2 separate regions of the Homo sapiens genome follow, and region 1 is linked to region 2. Evidence: fine-mapped expression QTL. Tissue or cell type: nucleus accumbens. Region 2 holds a variant in brackets; the other region holds the start of a gene. All regions are shown on one strand. Distances are between the middles of the regions.

Region 1 (8,148 bases), 47 kb after region 2:
TGTTAAATGATGCCTGAACTATGTGACCTCAGGCAAGTAATGTACTTCCTCTGGGCTTCAGTTCCCTCAAAGTAAAATTGAGGTAACTGTGCTGCCATCAGTTGGCTGCTGAAAGTATCAAACAAATGGGAAACAACTTTTAAACTGCCCAAGGCTACACAATAAAGCATCATTTATTAATTTCCATTAGCTTTCCTGTGCTTCACACATTCATCTCCTTATTGAAAGAAAAGAAAGAAAGAAAGACAATCAGGCACTCAGAGCAGCCCTACGAAAAAATTAGTGGGAAGAAAGGAACTAACATGTACAGGGCATTCACAGAAATTCCAGGCACATCATAAGCATTACGTTGAGAAAGAGACTTCCGAAGAGTGACAACAAAAGATACTGAAAGTCAAGACAACTTAAACAGCTCAGTCTGGTAGAAACTCATTTAATTTCTGCTCATAAAAACAGATTTAGCAAAAGAAGACACATACTCAAAAAATATCCTGAAGAAGCTAACAGGAATTTAACTTCACCTCTAAGGCATATGGAAAAGGATTTATTAGAAGCATTTTATGAGGCATAATTATATCTTATGACTTGCAGAGTAGGAGGAAAAAAGACAGCACATCAAAAGATATTACAAAGCAAATGGCTAACATCAAGTTGGGGCACTTACATTAGCTTTCCTCTAAAAAGAAATGGCTTTTTTTGCCATCTGACCTATAGTAGGGACTTGAAACAATTTTTCACACCCATCTTCCATTCTTACCCAGAATCACTTTTTCTTTCCAATAATTCCACTTTAAAAAGAGCTGCCCAATCCTAATACTTTCCTTTTTCTTTCCGAATCAGATCCTAATCTGGCAACCATAAAAATTTCCAACTCTTCCTTTTTACTATTTTACTAAAATTTACTTCTACTGTTTGTGTTTCAACACAACAACCAAATTCTAAGAGAAATCCATCATAGCCTAGTCTTCATAATTCTCTTCACATTAAAAACAAAAATGGTTCAGCTACTTGAGTTGGTCAGCAGTCAACCGCCCCTCCCAATTTCTCATTGTTATCTTCTTACAAATGTTCAATAGCCCTAAAGGTTGAAAGGGAACACAAAAATGAACATATTAGCTTCACACACTTTTTAGAGAAAGACAGCACTTGCAACTAACCATGAACAGCCTGCTACCTTGGTAAAGCATCATCAATAGCAAGAAGACTGAAAGGCCCAAATGATGCTGTGCTCAAGTCCAATTACTATGAAATTCCACGGGAGTTACTGGATATGAATCTAAACAAATGAAAGATGTTAAAGGCAGCAGTGAACTGGGACTCCAAGAGAAGGGAAAACTGCTTAAAAGTATGATCCATCTCATGTGCCTACTGGTCACAGAAAGCACCCTCCTCAGACATTCTAGGAACTCCATCTGCCACGTTCCAAGATTTATTTAGCATTCAGGCCACTACAGAAGTCATGCAAGTTAGCTCATCCTGCCAAAGATGGGTAAATCCTCCTAAATTACAGCAGATGCTCAATTTCTTCAGTTTGTATGGTTATCAGAATTATCATCATCAAACATCAATCCAGCCATTTTCTAGGAGGATTATGCAAGTCCTGAACTATGTCCTTCTACCTTTCTATACTGATTTTTAGCTGATAGATGTGGAGAATATCAGCTTTTATTATCACTCAGCAGTTAAGTCCCCACATTGTCCCTCTTCTGCACAGAATGACAATACCAATGCAAGGCAAAAAGAATAACATTGAGGAATATCAGTGCTATAATCATAGCAAAGAGGCAAAAAGCAGTGTCTGAAAAAAATTAATTTCTCAATTTATTCATATTTTTTAACTTTTGTATAAAAATTTCTAGGTATTAAATACTAACACCAAGTAGAAAGAAAAAGTTCTGGACGCCTGCTCTCCTGACTCAGGGGCTGGCCTCGATCAACTAAAAACTCTAATATCTCAAATTCTTCACCTGTTAAAATAGAGATAGCATCTCTTCTACCTCCATCATAAGGCTATTTTGAAGAATGAGGATTCACAGAAGGATTAAGTACAAAGCACCATGCCATGTAAGATATTCTTATTGGAAGACAGCTTTACGGAAGTGGAAGGACTATGAAATTTGCAGGGAGACTCACCTGGGTTCAAGTCCTATCTGTAACCCTAGCAGCTGTTCATTTGTTCCTCTGACAAGGGAGGAAGATCATTACATTGTAGGGTGGTGGGGATTAAATAACACTGCACGTGGAAAGCACCTGGCACACACTATACAGAGTGAATGTTAGTGCCCTATTATAAGCAAGGTTTTTCTGCAAAAAAAAAAGTTGCCCTTTTCAGCTTTGGCCTCAGTCCTATATACAAAGATCCTAGAATTCAGTTTGCACAAGGGCTTTTCAAAGATAAGTGCATAGCAACACAATCACATTATTCAGAAAATATTATGTTTCAGAACTGCAACTAGTCTATTAACCTCAAAACAAAACAGAATGTGCTTAGTTTCATGGAAAAGCACATGATGATCTGCCTGGCACAACTAGTGCCTTTTACATTTTATATTAACAAACCATGAGCTGTTGCCCAAACCCATTCACCAAGCACAAGACTTACAATCTAACATCCCATTCTGAGTTCTCACTGAGATGAACAAGAATTACCTGAAATCGGCCGGGCGCGGTGGCTCATGCCTGTAATCCCAGCACTCTGGGAGGCCAAGGCGGGCAGATCACGAGGTCAGGAGTTCGAGACCAGCCTGAACAACATGGTGAAACCCCGCCTGTACTAAAAATACAAAAACTAGCTGGGTGTGGTGGCGGGCGCCTGTAATCCCAGCTACTCTGGAGGCTGAGGCAGGAGAATTGCTTGAACCCGGGTGTCGGAGGTTGCAGTCAGCCAAGATCATGCCACTGCACTCCAGCCTAGGCGACAGAGCGAGACTCCGTCAAAAAAAAAAAAAAAAAAAGTCACCTGAAATCATCAAAAATGGTGTACTCATAGGGAGCCAAGCCCGGGCATGTTGCTTCTTGGCTCCCACAGGTGAATTTGAAGTGGCAATAGAACTTCGTTGATTCTTGTTTTTCTCATTTTAGTTTTACTCTCTATTAAATTGTTATTTTTTACAGTTCATTTATGGATGACAAGTTATTTCCTGTTGGTAGCTGCAATGATTGGGAATTTTGTGATCTCTGTAAACGAATTAATATCTCATAGAGATCTATTTCCTGTTGGATATGAGACAACAGAGAACACAGTTTTTGTCCATTTGTCTTTTTTAAGGTCAAATCGATTAGAAATTTCTTGCCCTCAAGTAAGGAGAACAACTCTGATACCTGGACTGGCAAGCTTTTGTGTTTCTGTGTTTATTTTTCATTTGTGGCTGAACTTGTAGAATTGAGGGTATACACATTCTATCTGTATGTCTATGTATCTGTAATTCAGAAAGTCCTTTATTTCTCATTGTGAGTATGGAATGTTTTCCTGTCTCCAGATGGTATTAATAAATTAGATGGTAAAGGCTCTTTAAAAATAAAGCCTCATTATGGGTTCATTTTCCCTCTCAAACTCTGTAGAACATAACCAGTTTGAAAAGCCTCTAGATTTGGGGGTGTAAAAATTCCATGCAGCTTGAGAGCCATCAGTCATTAAGCCGCTAGTTCCACCCCAAGTCTTGCTGTCCAGAAGCTCAGACAGTCCACTGGGCAGCAAAGAGGCGCTTTAGTAAGTTGAATTAAAGCCACAAACATGGCTGCTCCCTAAGGGAGATAATACTGTGTTAAAAAAAGAGAATTATTTATCTCTTCCCATTTCCTCCGCTAAATGAGGAGGTTAATAGTAAGACCTCCTTAGCCATGAGTGTTTCCGCTGCAGGAAACACCATTCGTGCCGGTTCTGGACTCACCACCCAGCGTGTACCAACGCCCCCAGCACCATCTCCCTGCTAGGCTGACAGACCCCTGGCGGATTTTGACCTCGCAAGAAATGCAAAAGCAACTTTGGGTTGCAGAAGCCAGGCGCCCCGACCTTACCCTCGCTGGAATTCCCGAAGACCTCGGCTGCACCAGCCACCCGGTGTTCGGATGCCAGCACCGCTACGACCAGCAGCTGCAGGAACCCCATTGCTGCCTGGGCCGGGCTGGGCCCACGCCAGGGCTGGGGAGAGGTGCGGGCGTGCGCGCCGGGGCCCCGCAGCCTCGCCCACGCTATCCCGGGGCGCCCGCATCGGGCGCCATCGCCCGCCAGGTGCAGACGCTTCGCACCTGCCAGCTCCGCAGCCGCCGGCGCGCGCCCCGCCGAACTCCTAGCCCCAGCGAGAGGTTTCCTCTTCCGGCACCTGACCCCCAACGCGCGTTCCCGCGCCTCCTCCCGGGCTCTCGCTGCGTCACAGCGGCGGGTCTCTGGGCGCGGGCGGCGCTGGGGCGTTTCCAGGCAGCGCGCGCCTCCTGCCGGCGCGCGGGGAACGCGCAGCCTGCGGTGCTCCCGGGAGCCCCCAGGAAGTCCTGGCTTGAGGCCCGGTCTTGCCCCACTTTTATCTCACCAAGTAGGCAAACCCACTGTGAAAGTACAAAATAACTTTCTGTTGCGGACTAACGTCGCCAGGCTCCTGTTTCCGTGTTTAACGGCCCTTTACAACAGCAAAAAAGAGGAATCAGTTGCTAAAAACACAATTGAAGGTTATTTCCCCCGGTAGCAATTGTCTTCGCTGCTGAGGCTTATGTTAGCATAAAAATGCCAGGAGAATGCTGTTTGTGTAGTGGTTACCGCACTAGTCATAAGCACTACATTTAAAAGTAGTTTCGTTTTCTCTAAGCGAAATATCCTCGAAGACACGGCCTTGGTCTGAACTTCGTCTCAAGTCTCATACCTGAGTGCTGTTTGAGGGACAGTAGTCCATGTGACAGATGGCTCATCGATGATGTGGAATTAGACGCATAGACTTAACGTTATTTGGGGAGGATTGTCTTGCTTTCCTTCCCTGGTTTTAATTTTTTTCACTTATATATTTTGATGAGCAACTTATAGCTTGGAAATTACATGTTCAGTTAGTCCACTACTAAGCTAACAATATATAGCTGTGACCATAATGTGAAGAAGTGTTAAAGACAAAATTATTCAATGATACTTGTTAAAGCACCGAACGAAGACTATTGAGGACTGTCTCAATTGGCATAGGGACCACTGCAACTGGGTCTTGCAGTGGGGAAGAGGGACTGGGCTCAACTCCGAATACAGCGTGGGCAAGAGGGAATTTATAGCCAACCAGCAGTATGGAGTTCAGTGGATGGAAAATTACTAAGAGGAAGCATCAGAGGTAAGGGGCATTTGGTGAAACTGACCTAACAGGACTTCTGAAGACATAACATCACCTGGGGGATGGTGCAGGGTGAGAAAACTGATTAGATATGGAGGAAAGGGGGTTCTTTGCTAAAACTGGATTTTTACAAAGAAGTGCACAGATGGACCTAGCAGAAGATTCAGAAGCCGTACTAGAGTTTGGCCAAGCAAATAATCTTTGTCATAGGCACAATTCTTTCTCTGCTTTCCCACTGCCTGGTCCAAATTTTCACACCTTTGGTAGCACTATCTATTTCTGTAGTGCTTATTCACTCTCCCACATGCCCCTATTCCTATAACCCTCAGTAGATGAAATCCAAGGAAGATGAAAGGGACAATTATGATAAGGGTAGCATCTGAATCAGTGGATGGATTATTCAATAAATTGTGTTCTTAACTGATTAGCTGCACTATGGGCAGAGAGAAGCAGAACTCTATCTCACACTAATTGTGAAAACAAAATCCCAAAGTAATAAAACCATAAAAGAGCTAGCAGAAGAGGGCGCTCTTTTTTTTTTTTAATAAATTGATCTCAAAATGGGAGGAGCTTTCTAAGAAGCAAAACAGCAAAGGAAACAACCATAAAGGAAAAGATTGGTAGACTTGGCTACGTAAATGCTTTTTACATAAATATTTAAATTTTATTAAAGTAAACACACAAACAATATGAAAAGGCAAGTTGACCAAAAAAAAAAAATTAGCAAAGGACATGAATGGGGAATTTCACCCCAAAAAAGAAATACAAATTACCAGTAAATACATGAAAAAAGTTCAATCTCACTAGTAAACAAATAAAAAAATCAAATTAACAAACTAAGATGTAAACATTTTAAAAGTATAAAACATCCAGTGTGGATAAAAGAGCTAAGAAGGAGGCATTCTTAGGTAGGGATACTGGGAATATACACTTTAATAAAGTAATCGGCATCAAAAATGTTTAAAAATCTTATTTTTGTAGATTTGGTATAATCCACTTTTAGATTTAAGTACATAATTAAATACACATATAAAAATTAGTATAAGCTGGGGGAAGTGGTATGCGCCTGTAGTCCCAGATACTCAGGGGGCTGAGGCAGGAGGATTACTTGAGCCCAGGAGTTCAAGAGGGCAGTGCTGTATGATTGCACCTGTGAATAGCCACTGCCCTCCAGCCTGGGCAACATAGTGAGACCCCATCTCTTAAAAAAAAATAGTGTACAGAACTATTCATAGAGTATTATTTAGAGTAGCAGAAACATCTAAAACAACCTAAATGCCCAACAATTAGGAGTTAAATAACCTATGATAGAGCTTTATAAGAGGATCCTGTGCAGCCCTTCATTTATATTCTGATTGAAGTCTTTATGAAAAGGCAAGTTATGATGCAATAAGTATATATAGTACGTGGCTTTTTTTTTTTTTTAACATACATCTTTTATTGACTCAGAGGAATGGATACTTTTGTTGTTTGTTTGTTTTTTTAAATGGAGTCTTGTTCTGTCCCCCAGGCTAGAGTGCAGTGGTGCAATCTTGGCTCACTGCAACCTCTGCCTCCCGGGTTCAAGCAATTCTCCTGCCTCCGCCTCCCAAGTAGCTGGGATTACAGGCACACACCACCATGCCCGGCTAATTTTTGTATTTTTTTTTAGTAGAGATGGGGTTTCACCACGTTGGCCAGGCTGGTTTGGAAATCCTGACCTTGTGATCTGCCCACCTCGGCCTCCTGAAGTGCTGGGATTACAGGCGTGAGCCACCACACCCGGCCTGTAATTTTTTTTTAAGAGACAAGATCTCACTATGTTACCCAGGCTGGCCTTAAACTCCCAGATGTAAGAATTAAAGAAGAAAGAAACAGGAAAGGTGGCTTAGAAGTCAAGGACAAGTTTATTTTAGAGAAAACAAACCTGAAAGGGGCTTCTGGCCAGTTAGGTTAGAGGCACACTCTCTTACGGACTAATAAGAGTTTTTAAGGATTTAGGGTGGGAGAGTTTATCAGAGGCTTGGACTGCTTCTGTGTCTGTTGTGCTTATCTGGGAGGGAGAGTTGTGTGTCTGTTCCCATACATCTTTTTGCAGCTGCAGGCATACCCCCGAGTCTGCTTTTAGCTTCCCTATCTTAGTGCACCTGAAGGGAAAGGAATGTACTTACTAAGGCCCACTGTTTTACTGGGGCCCATTGTATGAGGGTGAAGTTTGGCAGTTACCCAAGAGAATTTCCCCCCACCTCCCTTTGTGCCTGAGCTGTCTTATCTGTGTTTTACTGTCTGCTCTTTCTGGCTGCTTATAGTTAGAAGAGAAGTGATTTCCTTGAAATGCATGAGGCTAGAAAGGGAGCTGGAACTTAAAGTGGCGGTGTTTGTCCGAGATGACGGTGCTCCTGGTCTGTCACCAGACTCAAGCAATCCTGCCACCTCAGCCTCCAGACTAACTGGGACTACTACAGGCTCACACCACTGTGCCTGCCTTGTTTTCTTTGTAGTATGCATTCCTGGTTATGTACATAGAAAAAAAGGTTGAAAAATATATGCCAAAATGTTTAAAATAGTTATCTTTAGGTGGTTAAATTAAGAATGATTTCCTTTGCACATTTCTGTGTAAAAGTTCTACATTGAAGTGTATCATTTTTAAATAAGAAATTATGATTTTGTAAAAGATACATATAATTTTAAAGGTTTTCTTATAAAAGCATTCAAGATATAAGTCCACCTTCCTGAGTATGACACATAAATGCTTTTTGTGATGCAACTCCTGCTCACCTCCCTAGGTTCTTGCTGCAACTAAAATCAGACCTCTACATGCTGGCCACATTGAATTAATTTCAATTTCCTGAACTGAGCCTATTCTCTC
Region 2 (7,303 bases):
GAAATGGCAGCAGTAATGAGGAAAGCCATTGAAATTGACGAGCAACAGGGTTGCAAGGAACAAGAACGAATATTTCAACTTGAAGTAAGTTTTACATTGCAAATGTAGATGAAAACTGTCCATATAAAGATTTATGCCAGAAAATATATCCCATTTTTAAATATATATTTACTCTTCTTGGGTACTGGTAATGTTCTCCTGGATGCTGTCTATGTGGGCATATTATGCAAGACCATTTATGTGGTGATGCAAGAATCTAGGATTATTAGTAACTTACAATATACCAGTAATGTAGAAAATTGATGTTTCATTCTATATTGCTTATCTTATGAAGTGAATGTACTTCTTCAATTGAGTCATTTTTAAAATTTTGTTTATTCTATTAGAGATCATAGTGATACAGGGAAATTTTTTTTAATCCACAAATATTTAGGGGCACTCTTATTTTTCTGGGGATTCTAAAAACCTTTGTCATCTGTCCTTTATTTTATGACAGTGAAAGTACCAGTCTCTGAATAACTGAAATCAGTACAATAGACTTTTATGCCTTAAGAGCTTCATTTTGAAATCACGGCGGGGAACCTGCTTTAGACTACTAAAATTTAGAAAGTGAGACTGAAGATAAAGTGATAGAGAACAAATTATGAAAGGTTATTGTTAAATGTCTACAAATTTTTTTACAGTAACTAACCAAAAGGAGGCCAGAAAGCAAAGTTATTTACCAGTGCCAGATTTGGTCACTTACTTTCCTTCTTGAAAAATATCATCAGCTACCCCTACCCTGCTGCTCTCAAATGCCAATGAGCTAAACTTGTCCTACATTCCATGCTATCATGGAAAGTAATAAAAATACTAAAAATTACTAGGAGATTCTAGCCTATTCACTGGCTTTACGAGTTTATATAAAAATAAATCTAGATGTTATTTTCTTCATCTCTAATGTGATTGTAAAATAAGGCAATTTCTGAGCTTCTGTTTACAATTATAGCTGCTTAAGTAAGAAGGCTTTGCAGTGGTGGAAGATGTTGAACACGATTCCTAGCTGCATAAGTGTTCTTTAGATTCAAGTTGCCAACTGCATATATCATTGAGTAGATTAATGCCAATTACAGACCTTGCTTGTTTGTTATACCTTCATATGTTCAGTTTTTCCTAACATATGTTTGTGATGTTGTAGCTACCTTGTAGATAGTGACTGCATCTTTGTTTTTGCTTGCCTTTTAGCAAGAAAACAAAGGCTTGAGAGAGATCCTTCAAATAACTCGAGAATCATTTTTGAACCTAAGGAAAGATGATGCGTCGGAAAGTACTTCTTTGTCAGCATTAGTGACCAACAGTGATTTGAGTCTGAGGAAGAGCTGAAGAGTTTCTGAGTCTGTGAGCTTCTTACATGGCTCCAAATGGTCAAATAAGTGAATGAATGAATGGACAGAAAATTCAATCCTTTATTTTTTTCTCTGTAAATATGTACAGTGCACGGGCTATGAGATAGCAACAAAAAATGCATAGTTAATGGTCATAGACTTTATTCCAAAACATAATTGGAAAATAGAAACTGAGCCATTGCCAAATGGTAAAGAAATGAAAAGTTTTCACAGTGACTACTGAATATACCAAGAGCTTTTGGCAGTACTGCTGGCTTTCTGGGTGATTAATTAGGTAAACTTGAATATTCCCAGTAAATGTTTGAGAATGCATAAAATTATACCAATTTAAAAATATAAATTTTTGCCACTGTTTTGTGAACGGAGGATTTGTACGCTAAATTTCATCCTTATTTGGCGTCAAAGTTGATGCAAAGTTTATGTACCATGAGACTTCTAGTGATTGCCTACTTTCACATTTATTTAAATTTTTGTGAAAGAAAATACAGTTTTAAAGGCTATAGGAATGTGTTATATGTACCTTAAACAGATAATTTAATTTTAGCAATTTATCATAACTGATACTTAGCTAACAATTGTCCATAACTTGTTTAAGTGTAAGAAATACCATTTCAGGAATGAAAAAGAAGGAATACTACTTTCTAAGAAAGAAGATCTTATAATAGACATATTTAGTAGGTTAAACTACTCCTTTGAAAGAATAAGTTTTGGTTCAAAGTCAATAATGAAGACGAGATTTGTTTTTCTCTTCTCTGGCTGATTTTTAAGGATATTATGTAGTTCATTTAGTTAACAGAATTGAAATGTTTGATATGGCAAGATAGGTATGGTAATTTCAAAGTGAATTGGGAATTCCTCTGGCTCATAGAACCCTTTTTTTTTTCCTTTAAGTATTCTTGAGATACAAAAAAAAAAAGTAAATACAATTTCAAAAAAAAAGTTCCGGATCTGTTTTTAAGCTCCATCTGGTCCTCATAACCTGCAAGATTTTTCTTAAAACCTTTCAGCTGAAAGTGGGGGTAAAGGTGGAGTAATCTGTGGATTTGTTTCTGTTGTCTTTTAAAATGTCAAATATATAATATGTAATTTTTTTAAAAACCACCAGATACAGAAATGTGCTTTAACATCAGTTGAAACCTAAATTTTCTTATGTTGTGGTGATTGTATTAAAAAGGGATAAAAGAAGAGTGTCAAACATGGTTAAATATATTGTACTCATTTATGTTGAATACGTATTAAAATTAAGACAAATGGAAAATTATACTTTGAGTATATAATTTGTTAAATATTACTTTATATGGTAATTTTATGTATAATTTCATATATTGGTAAAATTCAAAACTACACTTGAGAATTTTTTTATCTTAAGTTTGGGGTGAATGGGGTGGATGAGACTGATTGAATAGAAAAGGGCTAATGGCCCAAACATTATATAGATTTCTTTTTTTCAGTCAGAGGCCTTATTTGATATTTTATAAATAAATGACAGTTTTTATTTTTAAACTTTTTATTGTTTTTGGGAAAGTATTCCTTAATTTAATGACACATTCATTCAGATACTTCTTATCCCTGCTAATAAAGGAAATCTATTTCAAGCTACACCATTGAGATTAAGTCTGAGGCAGTTCATTGAGGCAGCTCTACTATAAAAGCTTACTTGATAAATAATTATTTTTGTAAACAAGTTGGGTTAACTTATTCTTCGTCTTTTTGCTTGGATATGAATTTAAGGTCTTCATGTTTAAAGACATTTACTTTGTTATTTAGTGACACATTTCCATCCTATTTTTTTTTTTTTTTTGGTTGTTGTTAAACAGAACCTTAAGTTTATGTTTGAGGTATGTACTGCATAGGAACCTATTTTATTATTAAAGATGAATGATTAAAATTGGTATGGTCTCCAATTTAATTTGAAAAGTGCTTACCCTTATTCTTATATATGGTTTAATTTTAAGGTTTTTTGTCTCTTCTTAGTGCAAAACTACTTAGCAGTGACCTCTATCTGTATTCCTTAGGAATTAGCAGCTTCTTAGTGTGGATCCTGCAGAACTTCTTACCATTTGTAGTAGGTTGAATCATGTCCCCTAGAAGGTAAGTCTAAGTCCTAACTTGATACACCTGGGAAGGTGACCATATTTGGAAATAGTCTTTACAGATGTGATTAGGGGATCTCAGGATATAATTACCCTGGATTTTGGGTGGGCTCCAAACCCAGTGACTAGTGTCGTTACAATAAGAGAGGAGGAGATATGAAACACAGATATAGCAGCATGAGGACAGAGGCAATGAGTTACGCAAGGACTGCTAGCCACCACCAGAAGCTGCAAGAGAGGCATGGAATGGGTTCTTCACGGGCTCCAGAAAGGACCAAGCCTGCTTGATTTCAGACTTCTGGCCTCCAGAACTGTGAGGAAATAAATTTCTGTTGTTTTCATTCACCCAGCCTGTGGTAATTTGTTAGAGTAACCCTAGGAAACTAAGACATCTATTGTTTTTCATCTATCAACTATATTTTTATTTTATATAAGAAAGTTCTTAAAAACCAATTTATAACCTCACAATTTCTGCTCTAATTTTATATTCTTTAATATCAAGGTGACTTCTAAAATTTTATAGAAATAAATTGCTTCCCTGTAATCCCAGCACTTTGGGAGGCCGAAACAGGTGGATCAGTTGAGGTCAGGAGTTCAAGACCAGCCTAGCCAACATGGTAAACCCTGTCTCTACTAAAAATACAAAAAGTTAGCCAGGGATGGTGGTGGGTGCCTGTAATCTCAGCTACTTGGGAGGC[C/T]GAGGCAGGAGAATCGCTTGAACCTGGGAAGCAGAGGTTGCAGTGAGCCGAGATCTCACCATTGCACTCCAGCCTGGGCAATAATAGTGAAACTCCATCTCAAAAAAAAAAAAAAAATTGCTTCAATGAAAAATGGACAATCGTAGATCCATAATTTTGGTGGTCACTACCTTTTTTCATTGTCAGAGTGAAATAGGAGAACATTTTTTAGTAAAATACTGATGAAGATGATAATTTCTAATTGGAATTTGAGGAGACACTTTTTCCTTTAACCTCTCTGGCTGCTCCTCAGTCTCCTTTGTTTCTTCTCGCTGACCTCTTAACATTAGAGAGCCACTGGGCTTAGTCCTTATACCTATTCTGTGCAGTGTCTCTACTCACTGGTGATCTCACCCAGTCTCATGACTAAATACCACCTCTATGCTTGATGGCTCCTAAATTCACAGTTCCAGCATAGACCTCTCACCCCGGATTCATGCAGCTGTGACTGTCAAAGAGAAATTTTATGCTTAAGATGTCCAAAGCCAAACTCCAAACCTCCCAGAACGCCTCCATACTCTTTCCCATCCTGCTTGATGACAACTCCATCCTTGCAGTTGCTAAGGCCAAAAACCTTGGTGGCAACTTTGACTCCACTTTCTCATATCGTGCATCCTATTCATCAGCAAATCCTGTTGTTGGCTCTTCCTTCCAAATAAATCAGAATCCTACCATTTCTCTCCTCCACTGCTACCCCTGGTCAAAGCTACATTATGGTAGTGTTAAAGTATACAAATTGGATTCAACCTAAATATCCTACAGTAGGGGAATAGTTAAATGTCAATATTCACTCAATACAGTTGATTACAGTCTATGGCTTGAAGATGCTAGCAACAAGAAGAAAAAAGTACCTAAATATGCATTAAAAAGCTTAACATAAATTACCCATATAATTACAAATATGTAAAAATCAGATGCATACGGGGAAATGTCCTGAAGCAAACAGCATCAGTATTCTTCCAGCTAATTGTACTGTTTGCATTAGCCAGTCAGTTTCTGATGCCTGTAAATCAAGCATTTTTGTAGCTACCATTATGGAGTTGTAATTTATTCATCAGTTCCCCCAACTGATGGATAGTTTGCAAAGTTTAATACAAAATAATGCAGTAAACATCCATATACATAACTTTATTTATTGTAATTTCTAGCGTGCAAATTCCCAGAAGTTTGTTAGGTCATGTTTTGTTATTTTTTAAATGAAAAAATAAATGTACACTGTTAAAAATCTTAGCATACTAAAAAATTTACAATTCAGAGTAAACCTCTTCCTACAACCTCTGTCTTTCCAGAGGTCATTATAAGTTTCTTGTGAATCAGAAAACCTGTTAACCAAAAAAAGTGACTGAGGCAAGTGTCTTAAATCAGTAGAGGTTTATTGGGCCAAAGTTTAAAGACATGCCAGAGAAAAAACGCAAGCCACATGAGCATCTGTGACCTGAGCTTTCTAAAGAGGGTTTTGGAAACTCATTATTTAGGGGAGAGAGTGAGGAGGGAAAAGGGAGAGGGGTTAGGCAGTGAGGCAAATGATTACATTCTTGTGAGGCTCTGATTAACGCTCAGTAAATCTATGTTTCATATAAGATAAACTGAAAAAAGGGAGTAAAGACTCAGTTATTCATCTGTTTCAGGGTAGGCAGAAGAGTGGTTGATTTTGTCTCATCCTTATTCTGTACCTGGGAAGATAAGCTTGTTATCAGCATTGTCAGTGTGAGATTTAACAAAACTTGGTTTTAAGAGTTAAACTTAGGTTGCAGACCCAAGGTTACAATTGGCATGTGTTGGTTTTACAGCTCTCTACAATGAGAAGGGGAGGCCTTGAGGCTTCTGTTAATAATACTCCCCTTCCTACACATGACATACTTGGTTTTGGCTACTCCTACTCAACCTCCAAGTTTCAGCTGGAATGTCACTTCCTCAAGGACTCCTTCCTTGGCATCCCACTTTCTAGCCCTATCCCATTATACATTTTCATTGCATATTACACATCTTGTGTAACTATTTTAGTATCTGTCTCACACTCCAGTCCCAGACAGCAAAGACCATGCCTGTGTTTTCCATCTTCCTAGTGCTCAAGGCAATGCCTGGCCAGGAACTCAACAAATATTTAATGAGTGAATGTGAGATCTAAGTCAAAGCCTCACTATCATATATATATAATTTTTATTTTTTTGAGACAGTGTCTTGCTTTGTCGCCTAGGCTGGAGTGCAATAGTGCGATCTCAGTTCACTGCAGCCTCCGCCCCCCGGGTTCAAGTGATTCTTCCTCCTCAGCCTCCCAAGTAGCTGACAGGTATGTGCCATCATGCCCGGCTCGTTATTTTTATTTTTTAGTAGAGACGGGGTTTCACCATGTTGGCCAGGCTGGTCTTGAACTCCTGACTTCAAGTGATCTGCCCACCTTGGCCTCTCAAAGTGCTGGGATTACAGGCGTGAGCCACCACGCCACTCCTGTATAACAATTTTTTAAAAAATCTTAAGCTTGATCCAGACCTGCCAACCTCTCCAGTGTAATGATTACATGGTAGTCCCTGGGTAAGTCCAGAGTTCCCACTAACTTAAGCCCCTCTTTGTGTCAATTTCATAAAGAGTGGTCCTTGCAAATACAATGGCCAAATTGCCAAGAGGCATTTCAATCAACAGTCAGGGTAATGTGTATTCTTTTGACATAACAGAATACCACTGACTGAATGGCTTAAACAACAGAAATAATTTCTCACAGTTCTGGAGGCTGAAGTCCATGATCAAGGTGCAGCAGGGATGGTTTCCTCTGCTTGCAGATGCTCCCCTCTTACTGCTCTTCACACGGTCTTTCCCCTGTGAGCACATGCACCTGGTGTTTCTGTGTCCTAATCTCCCCTTCTTACAAAGACACTGGTCAGACTGGATTAGGACCCACCCTAATAGTCTCAATTTAATTTGAAACCTCTTTAAAGGCCCCGTCTCCAAATAAGGTCACATTCTGAGGTACCGGGTGTTAGGGCTTCAACATATAAATTTGTTTGGGGGGCACAGTTTAGTCTATCAGCAAACCATAGGTAGCTGCCCTCCCAACAAGGGCTGGGATGCAATGAGGGGCTGTGCCCTAGGG

The links. PIP is the estimated chance that this variant, and not a neighbour inherited with it, causes the effect.
Region 1: TM7SF3 starts here. The variant in region 2 is fine-mapped to the expression of TM7SF3 in nucleus accumbens (GTEx, PIP above 0.99).

What each region holds. Positions count from the first base shown.
Region 1 is chr12:27,010,061-27,018,208 of GRCh38, forward strand. It overlaps TM7SF3 (transmembrane 7 superfamily member 3), which reads right to left and starts at 4,324. Exons shown (of 12, transcript NM_016551.3): 1 at 4,018-4,324. The coding sequence starts at 4,108. RefSeq lists a silencer at 4,017-4,516.
Region 2 is chr12:26,963,372-26,970,674 of GRCh38, forward strand. It overlaps FGFR1OP2 (FGFR1 oncogene partner 2), which reads left to right. Exons shown (of 7, transcript NM_015633.3): 6 at 1-84; 7 at 1,225-3,277. The coding sequence ends at 1,362. Among named protein-coding and RNA genes, the nearest start is that of FGFR1OP2, 29 kb to the left of the region's middle. The variant C/T (reference allele first, on the strand shown) is at 4,177.